Homo sapiens: one gene and its partner. The protein of the gene in region 2 purifies or fractionates together with the protein of the main gene of each other region. This does not show direct contact. Each region holds a gene or a part of one and is shown on either strand. Other genes may lie near its edges. The genes, in order: DHODH and SDHC.

Region 1 (4,419 bases), on a different chromosome or scaffold from region 2:
TGGGTAAAAATTATCCGTTCATATTATCTAAGCCAAACTATATTTTACCACATAAACACAAACTGTCTTTCCTGACCTCCTGGTCTCAAGCAATCCTCCCCTCCTCAGCCTCCCCAAGTAACTGGGACCACAGGCACATGCCACCAAGCCCAGCCAATTTTTTGAAGAGATAGAGCCTCTTTATGTTGCCCAGGCTGGTCTTGAACCCTTAGGCTCAAGCAGTACTCCTGCTTTGGCCTCCCAAAGTGCTGGGATTACAGGCATGAGCCACCGTGCCCAGCCTCTACATGGTTTTCACATACAGTACAAATATCTTGTAAATTGAGGGACAACTGTACAGTTTCACATAGAACATTCCCAAGAATTGTTCACCATTTCAGAAAATCTCATCGGGAATGGTACAGTGCTTTCCTGGGGTGCCTGATATGTAACACACCTGTGTACCTGCATTTCTAAGTAGAGACTTAAACACAACTATCTCACTAGGGGAGTCATAGCAATATTTACATACTGAAATACATGTAATTTTATTATTAATATAAACTACTTTTACATTTTCTCCTTTATATTCCAGTTAGGGTATTAATTATGCTGGCTTTTAAAAATTGCACATAGCTGGACTTGGTGGCTCATGCTTGTAATCCCGGCACTTTGGGAGGCTGAAGTGGGAGGACTGCTTGAGCTCAGGCGCTTGAGACCAGCCTGGGGAACATAGTGAGACCCCGTCTCTACAAAATATAAAAAATTAGCCAGGCATGGTGGTGCGCCTGCGGTCTCAGCTACTTGGGAGGCAGAAGTGGGTGGATCCCTTGAGCCCAGGAGGTCCAGGCTGCAGTGAGCCGGGATGACACCACTGCACTCCACCTGGGCGACAGAGTCAGACTCTCTCAAAAATGTATACATACAAAGACATTATACATATATTCCATTTCAAGGTAACGGGGGTGTAAAATATAAAACAGAAGCTTCAGATCTTATTGGATCAAAAGTGGTTCACAATGCTTTTCTCTATCACTGCCACATGCTGAGTTATTCATTCATTAGTTCAGTCATTCATCAAATACTGATTGAGCAAAGATGACAAAACAGATCTTGCCCCTACCCTCATGGAGAGTGTGATCTTATGAAGCGACAGACAGAAATTAATGATCATGCAAATATGTAGTCATAGCAACTGTGATGAAGGATAAAAAGTATAAGGTAATGGAAGTATTCAACCTAATCTTAGAGGTAAGGAAAGGCTTCCTTAAGGAAATGACTTAAAGCTGATACTCAAGGGATAAACGAGTTGATGGGGGTCTCTCTGAACCTATTCTGGTTCAATTATTTAAAAAAATAGTTAACCAGAAGGCAGTACGGAGAGGAAAAAGTGTAAAGGCTCTCTCAGTAGCAGAAGAGAATGAAAAAGGGAGAAAGTTTGGAACAGAGGAGTGAGGGAAAGTAAGGCTTAAGACGAGGCAGGAGAAAGGAGCAGGAGTCTTGGCCAAAATAAAGATTTGGGTTTTGTTCCCTAAGCCAGGAAATGACATGATTAGATTTGCTTTTAAGGATCCTTCCAAACTGCTAAAGACATGTAGATCAAGTATTCATTGGCTGGGCGCGGTAGCCCACGCCTGTAATCCCACCACTTTGGGAGGCTGAGGCGGGAAGATCCCTTGAGGCCAATAGTTCTAGACCAGCCTGGGCAACACAGTGAGATCCCATCTCTCTCCATTTATTTATTTTAAAAAGAGACTCAGGCCGAGCGCGGTGGCTCACGCCAGTAATCCCAGCACTTTGGGAGGCTCACGAGGTGAGGAGTTCGAGACCAGCCTGACCAACATGGTGAAACTGCAGTCTCTACTAAAAATACCAAAATTAGCCAGTCGTGGTGGCGCGCGCCTGTAATCTCAGCTACGCAGGAGGCCGAGGCAGGAAAATCGGTTGAACCCGGGAGGCGGAGGTTGCAGTGAGCCAAGATCGCGCCACTGCACTCCAGCCTGGGCGACAGCCCAAGACTCCGTCTCAAATAAACATATAAAAAGAAAGTCAAGGTTATTCATTGCCTCCCTTGGAGACTGTACTCCCCCCCACCATGTCAATCAACAAATATCTGAACACCTATTTTTTTTTTTTTTTTTTTTTTTTTTGAGACGGAGTCTCGCTCTGTCGCCCAGGCCGGACTGCGGACTGCAGTGGCGCAATCTCGGCTCACTGCAAGCTCCGCTTCCCGGGTTCACGCCATTCTCCTGCCTCAGCCTCCCGAGTAGCTGGGACTACAGGCGCCCGCCACCGCGCCCGGCTAATTTTTTGTATTTTTAGTAGAGACGGGGTTTCACCTTGTTAGCCAGGATGGTCTCGATCTCCTGACCTCATGATCCACCCGCCTCGGCCTCCCAAAGTGCTGGGATTACAGGCGTGAGCCACCGCGCCCGGCCTCTGAACACCTATTACATACGGGGATACAGCTAAGAACTTTTCACAGAGACCCCCGCCCCTAACAAAACTTTACCTAAAAGGGTTGGGAGCATGTCCTACTCTAGTTTCATTCCCCGTTGGATCCGGCACACAACGCTAGGCGGTCATGTGTTCACTAAGCACCCCTGTGCCAGGCTCAAAAACATGGCCCAGGCGCAGACACTCAGATCAGCACCCACCCAGACCTGCAGGCGCTGTCTGCACACGCCTGACCGAGTCCACGTGCAAATGCACACGCACGAGCATTTGCAGGAGACCCCGGAAACACGCACACGTCCCAGGGGGGCCCACACTCCCGGAGCCGCCTTCGGTCCATGCCTCGCCCGGCCTGACTCTCCGTTCTCGCCCTCCCCGGTCCCTGGTCCCCCATCCACACTGCTCACTCGCGGGACTCACTTTCAGGTGTCTCCACGCCATGCTCCTTCCGTCATTAAGCCCGCCCCTGTCTCCCTTCCATTGGAGGAGATGGTGGCGGCCCCTCTTGTCTCCGCCCCTTAGCCGCCAACCCACCAGTCGCCGGGCAGAAGGGTTGAGAGGACGCCTCCGCGCAGCGGGGAAGGCCCGGCACCACCCCCAGGTTCTGGTTGGGTGCACGTGCGCAGTAGCGGCGGCCACGCCTCTTCCGCCCGCCCTCTCCCAGCCTGCCCGCTTGATCGCCGGCTGTTGGCGGAGATGAGATGCCGCTGCACGGTGTTTGTCCGTACTACCGCAGCCTCGAATCCAAGAGTCCGCGAGCATCAAAACACTGTGTTTCACACCAGAAATATTTGTACAGTTTTTATCACTTTAAAAAATAAATTTTACTGCTGTGTTGATATAAAGATGAATATGTTAATATATAAACTTTTTCAACTTAAAAGTTGATTTTTCTTAAGGTTTTTTAAGGAAATTAAAACATTTTCTTGAGGCCGGGCATGGTGGCTCACGCCTGTAGTCCCAGCACTTTGGGAGGCTGAGGCAGGCAGATCACTTGAGGTCAGGAGTTCGAGACCTGGTCAACACCCAAAACCCCGTGTCTACTAAAAAATAAAATAAAATACAAAAATTAGCCGGGCGTAGTGGCAGGCGCCTGTAATCCCAGGTACTCGGGAGGCTGAGGCAGGAGAATCGCTTGAACCCAGAAGGTGGAGGTTGCAGTGAGCCGAGATAGCACCACTGCACTCCAGCCTGGGCGACAAAGCAAGACTCTGTCTCAAAAACAAACAAAGAAAAATAACCAAAAAAAAAAAATTTCTTGAGATCCTAAAAGTGTCAGAGGCCCTTCCCTGGCCCTGCGCCTGTTGTGCCTCCTGGAGAAAGTGGCCCTGGTTATACCTTGGCATTGTGGTGCAACAGATGTGGAGGTATTTTTTTAAATACTGTTTCTAATCAAGACCCTGAGTGTGCAGGCCCGTTGGAGTGTGGTTTACTGCGGTGATTTTTTTTTTTTTTTTTTTTTTTTTTTGACAGAGTCTTGCTCTGTTGCCCAGGCTGCAGTGCAGTGGCGCGATCTCGGCTCACTACAAGCTCCGCCTCCCGGGTTCACGCCATTCTCCTGCGTCAGCCTCCCGAGTAGCTGGGACTACAGGCGCCCGCAACCATGCCCGGCTCATTGTTTTGTATTTTAGAGACGGGGTTTCACCGTGTTAGCCAGGATGGTACTGCGGTGATTTATGACGACCTAATGTGTCACTTTGTAGTCCTCTGAAGCAATCGTGCCCTCACGAAGAATTTTGAAATGTCTTACCTAATGATGTCCTGGCCGTTGGAGAATAGCCTCTGTAGACTTAGGTGTCAACAGCATTAATCAGATACTTATTGTTTGGAGGCTCTACACCCATCCGTGTCATTTTTGTCCAGTTGCAGTGTTCCCGCCATCAGCTGAAATAGCTGGGTTATTGTCGTAGCAGAAATTAGAGCAAAAGAAAGGTGTATGAAATATCTTGAGTCAAGCCATTTTTGAGCTTCATCAGTTGTATGAAG
Region 2 (3,815 bases):
ATTCTTGTGCCTCAGCCTCCCAGGTAGCTGGCCTTATAGATGCATGCCACCATGCCTCGCTAATTTTTGCATTTTTAGTAGAGACAGGGTTTTGCCATGTTGGCCAGGCTGGTCTCAAACTCCTGGCCTCAAGTGATTCGCCCACCTCAGCCTCCCAAAGCGCTGGGATTACCAGCATGAGCCACTGCGCCTGGCCCTTTTTTTATCTTTATCTTCTAGTGTTGCTACCTCTGAAGAGAGGAAAAATTTTAAATCATTCAAATCTCTATTACACAAAAATTTAAATTAAAATGAATTAGAGACCTAAATGCTAGAACTAAAACTATAAAACTCTTAGTAGAAAGCATAGAAATAAATCTTCATGATCTTGGATTAGGCAGTGGTTTCACAGATGACACCAAAATCATAAATGACAAAAGAAAAAACAGATGAATTGGATTTCATCAAAATTACTAACTTTTGTGCTGCAAATAATACCATCAAGAAAGTGAAAAGACAACTCAAAGGAATGGGAGAAAATATTTGCAAATCATGGAGGACTTTTATCCAGAATACATAAAAAACTCTTACAACTCAATCAATAAAATGACAAATGGATCTGAATAGACATCTTTCCAAGGACGATAAATAAATGGCCAATCAGTGCATGAACAGGTGCTTAACATCATTAGCCATTAGACAAATGCAAATCAAAACCATAATGATATAATGTAACTGCTATGTGTATATACTTGGAAGATTATTTCCCTATGTGAAAGAAAAAGTATGAATATTTTAATGTCTGACAGGGCTGCATTATCTGTTGGAGCTCAGTGGCTATCGACCACCAATGACTGAGAAATCAAGTATAACAAATATGAAACTCAAATTAGAAATAAGATGTTATCTTGGCTGGCACGGTGGCTCATGCCTGTAATCCCAACACTTTGGGAGGCCAAGGTGGGCAGATTATTTGTGGTGAGGAGTTCAAGACCAGCCTGGGCAACATGGTGAAACCCCATCTCTACTAAAAATACAAAAATGAGCCAGTTGTGGTGGCGCACACCTGTAGTCCCAGCTACTCAGGAGGCTGAGGCAGGAGAAACTCTTGAACCTGGGAGGTGGAGGTTGCAGGAAGCTGAGATCGCACCACTGCACTCCAGCCTGGGCAACAGAGTGAGGCGTGAGGCTCCATCTCAAATGACAAAACACACACACACACACACACACACACACACACACACACACACACACAAAGAAATAAGACATCATCTGTAAAATGGGAATTAAAAAAAAAAAAAGAAAAAAAGAAGAGGCCAGTTGTTTCCCATAATCACCAAAAAATATTTTGGGGAAGCAAAAAAGAGTACCCACATCACAACTCCCAGAGACCCTGATTTGATAGTTTGGGATCATTGCTAGAACTGTGGTTTCCAAACTACACCAAGCTGCCCTGGGGTACCAAAGCAAACTCACAGGTCCTACAGGATATTTTACATATTCAAATGAAACACAGTGATACTTAACATCTGTTGGTCATCATGTGAACCACTACTAGCTCAAGGTAGTTCAGTTTCAACATTAGATGTTAGATTTCTTTCAATGATCACATCTTTGCAAAGCTGGGTTTTCAGCAAAAATGAAGTACTGTGTGAAAATCACTGTGGAACAAGAAATGAGGGTGGCAGTATCCAATCTGATTTCTAAGGTTGGAGGAGTTGTATAATATCCAACAGCATATACATCCTATTAGTAAGTAATTATGATTGGCTGGGTATGGTGGCTCATGCCTGTAATCCTAGCAATTTAGGAGGCTGAGGTGGGAGGATTACTCGGGCCCAGGAATTCAAGACCAGCCTGGGCAACATAATGAGACCCTGTCTCTACTAAAAATAAGACAAAAAATAAAAACAAAAATAAAAAATATTAGCCAGGCACAAAGTGAGCTGTGATTGTGCTACTGCACTCCAGCCCAGGTAACAGAGTGAGATCTTGTTTCAAAAACAAACAAACAAAAAAGTATGATTATTTAAGAATGAAATAAAAATATTTTTTTCTTTCCATTTATGTGGATGATTTTGTTTTTGCTTTTGTTTTTCATAGAGACGGGGTCTTGCTATGTTGCTCAGGCTGGTCTCTAACTCCTGGGCTCAAGCGATCCTTCTGCCTTGGCCTCCCAAAGCACTGGGATTATAGTTGTCAGCCACTGTGCCCAGCCTATGTGGATGATTTTTTTTAAAAAATGTCTACTCAATGGCTAAGAAATAAATAAGCTGTTTGGATCTAACAAACTAATAAAACAAAAGTGTTAGGTATTTACCTTGACTTAGGAGCACCATGAAAATAATTACTGAAGACACTGAGGTAAACCTGAACTCAAACAGTTTGATGAACATTTGGGAGGAAGATATGACTCAAGAGGGTTCAGAGTCTTTGACACTCTGGATAGATGATAAGCTATTATAGAAGACTGCAGGAACCCCTCTTTTGGTAGTTTTGATAGGAAATTCAAAACTATCTTTTGAATTTCAGTGCCAGCACAAAGCTCTGAAACTTCAATAGCCAAATATATGCCTTAGATATCTGGGCAAACTCATCCCTGATCTATGCATCAAATAGGACAACAGGCTCACAGCTGAGTCCCAGGGATGGCCACCCACACCAATATTAACCAACAGAAAACCAGACCCTGATATGGTGTTATCCTAGGATAACACCACCTACTCTCAAATGACCTACGAGAGTCAAAACTCTTGGAAATACTAGGATGTGAATAACAGTGTCTTCAGCTTTTGTTTTCCTATGAATAATACAGAATTATGTCAATTAGTTTAATCAATTCAAAAAGAGAAGACTGCCTCTAAATAAGTCAAATGTTCTCAAAATCATTCTACTACTACATACCCCCACACCAATTTTTTCTTTTTTCTTTTTTTTTCTTTGAGACGGAGTCTCGCTCTGTCGCCCAGACTGGAGTGCGGTGGCACGATCTCAGCTGACTGCAACCTCCGCCTCCCAGGTTCAAGCAATTCTCCTGCCTCAGCCTCCCGAGTAGCTGGGACTACGGGTGTGTGCCACCACGCCCGGCTAATTTTTTTGTATTTTTAGTAGAGACGAGGTTTCACTACATTAGCCAGGCTGGTCTCAAACTCCTGACCTCAGGTGATCCACTCGCCTTGGCCTCCCACCCACCTCGGCCACTTCAGTTTCTTAAGCTCTTAAATGAAGATACTCCTGTTTCTCAGATTATTATGAGGGTTAAATAATTATGTAAATGTTTAGTAAATAATGGCTATAGCAATAGTTGTATTTGAATTAGGTATTTTTCTGATGGGTTGAGTCCTTAAACAAAAAACATAAAATGATACAGTCTCTGGATATACATAGAATACTGGTTATTTCTGACTGGCGGGATTATGGGCAACTTTTCTAAGTATACATTTGTATAATATTTTCATTCTTGGTAATATGTTCTTGTAATCAGGAAAAATTTTTTTTTATACAAATCTCTGGGAGGTCAAGGAGATCTGGGATCATTACCAGATTCCAAGCCAGATATAATCAGGAGAGAGATCATTTTGGCTGGCTGCCTCACTAATTTTCAAAAAAGGCTCTACCTCTTCAAACAGGAATATTAATCAGTTAATTCAATTGAAAGCTACTTTAGCCAAAGCTTTCATCACTACAAGTGAAAAACATATGAGAATTAAATATGAGATTTTCTGAATTCTCCTCTGATGTTCAGTATATTGGGCATCAGGAAACTGACCCCACTCCTAGAATCTGAGTGCCTCAGAGAGTCCTCTAACAGCTGAACAATTTCAATTGGGAAAATA

The links.
Region 1: the proteins of SDHC (region 2) and DHODH purify together in Homo sapiens (affinity purification with mass spectrometry; one large-scale study listed by BioGRID and IntAct). This does not show direct contact.

The regions. Positions count from the first base shown.
Region 1 is NC_000016.10:72,007,220-72,011,638, reverse strand, and holds the start of DHODH (dihydroorotate dehydrogenase (quinone), mitochondrial), read right to left. Parts: upstream 2,896-4,419; 5' UTR 2,875-2,895; coding exon 2,854-2,874; exon of another isoform or gene 2,730-2,853; intron 1-2,729. UniProt on the Homo sapiens protein: Catalyzes the conversion of dihydroorotate to orotate with quinone as electron acceptor. Required for UMP biosynthesis via de novo pathway.
Region 2 is NC_000001.11:161,352,083-161,355,897, reverse strand, and holds part of SDHC (succinate dehydrogenase cytochrome b560 subunit, mitochondrial isoform 1 precursor), read right to left. Parts: intron 1-3,815. UniProt on the Homo sapiens protein: Membrane-anchoring subunit of succinate dehydrogenase (SDH) that is involved in complex II of the mitochondrial electron transport chain and is responsible for transferring electrons from succinate to ubiquinone (coenzyme Q).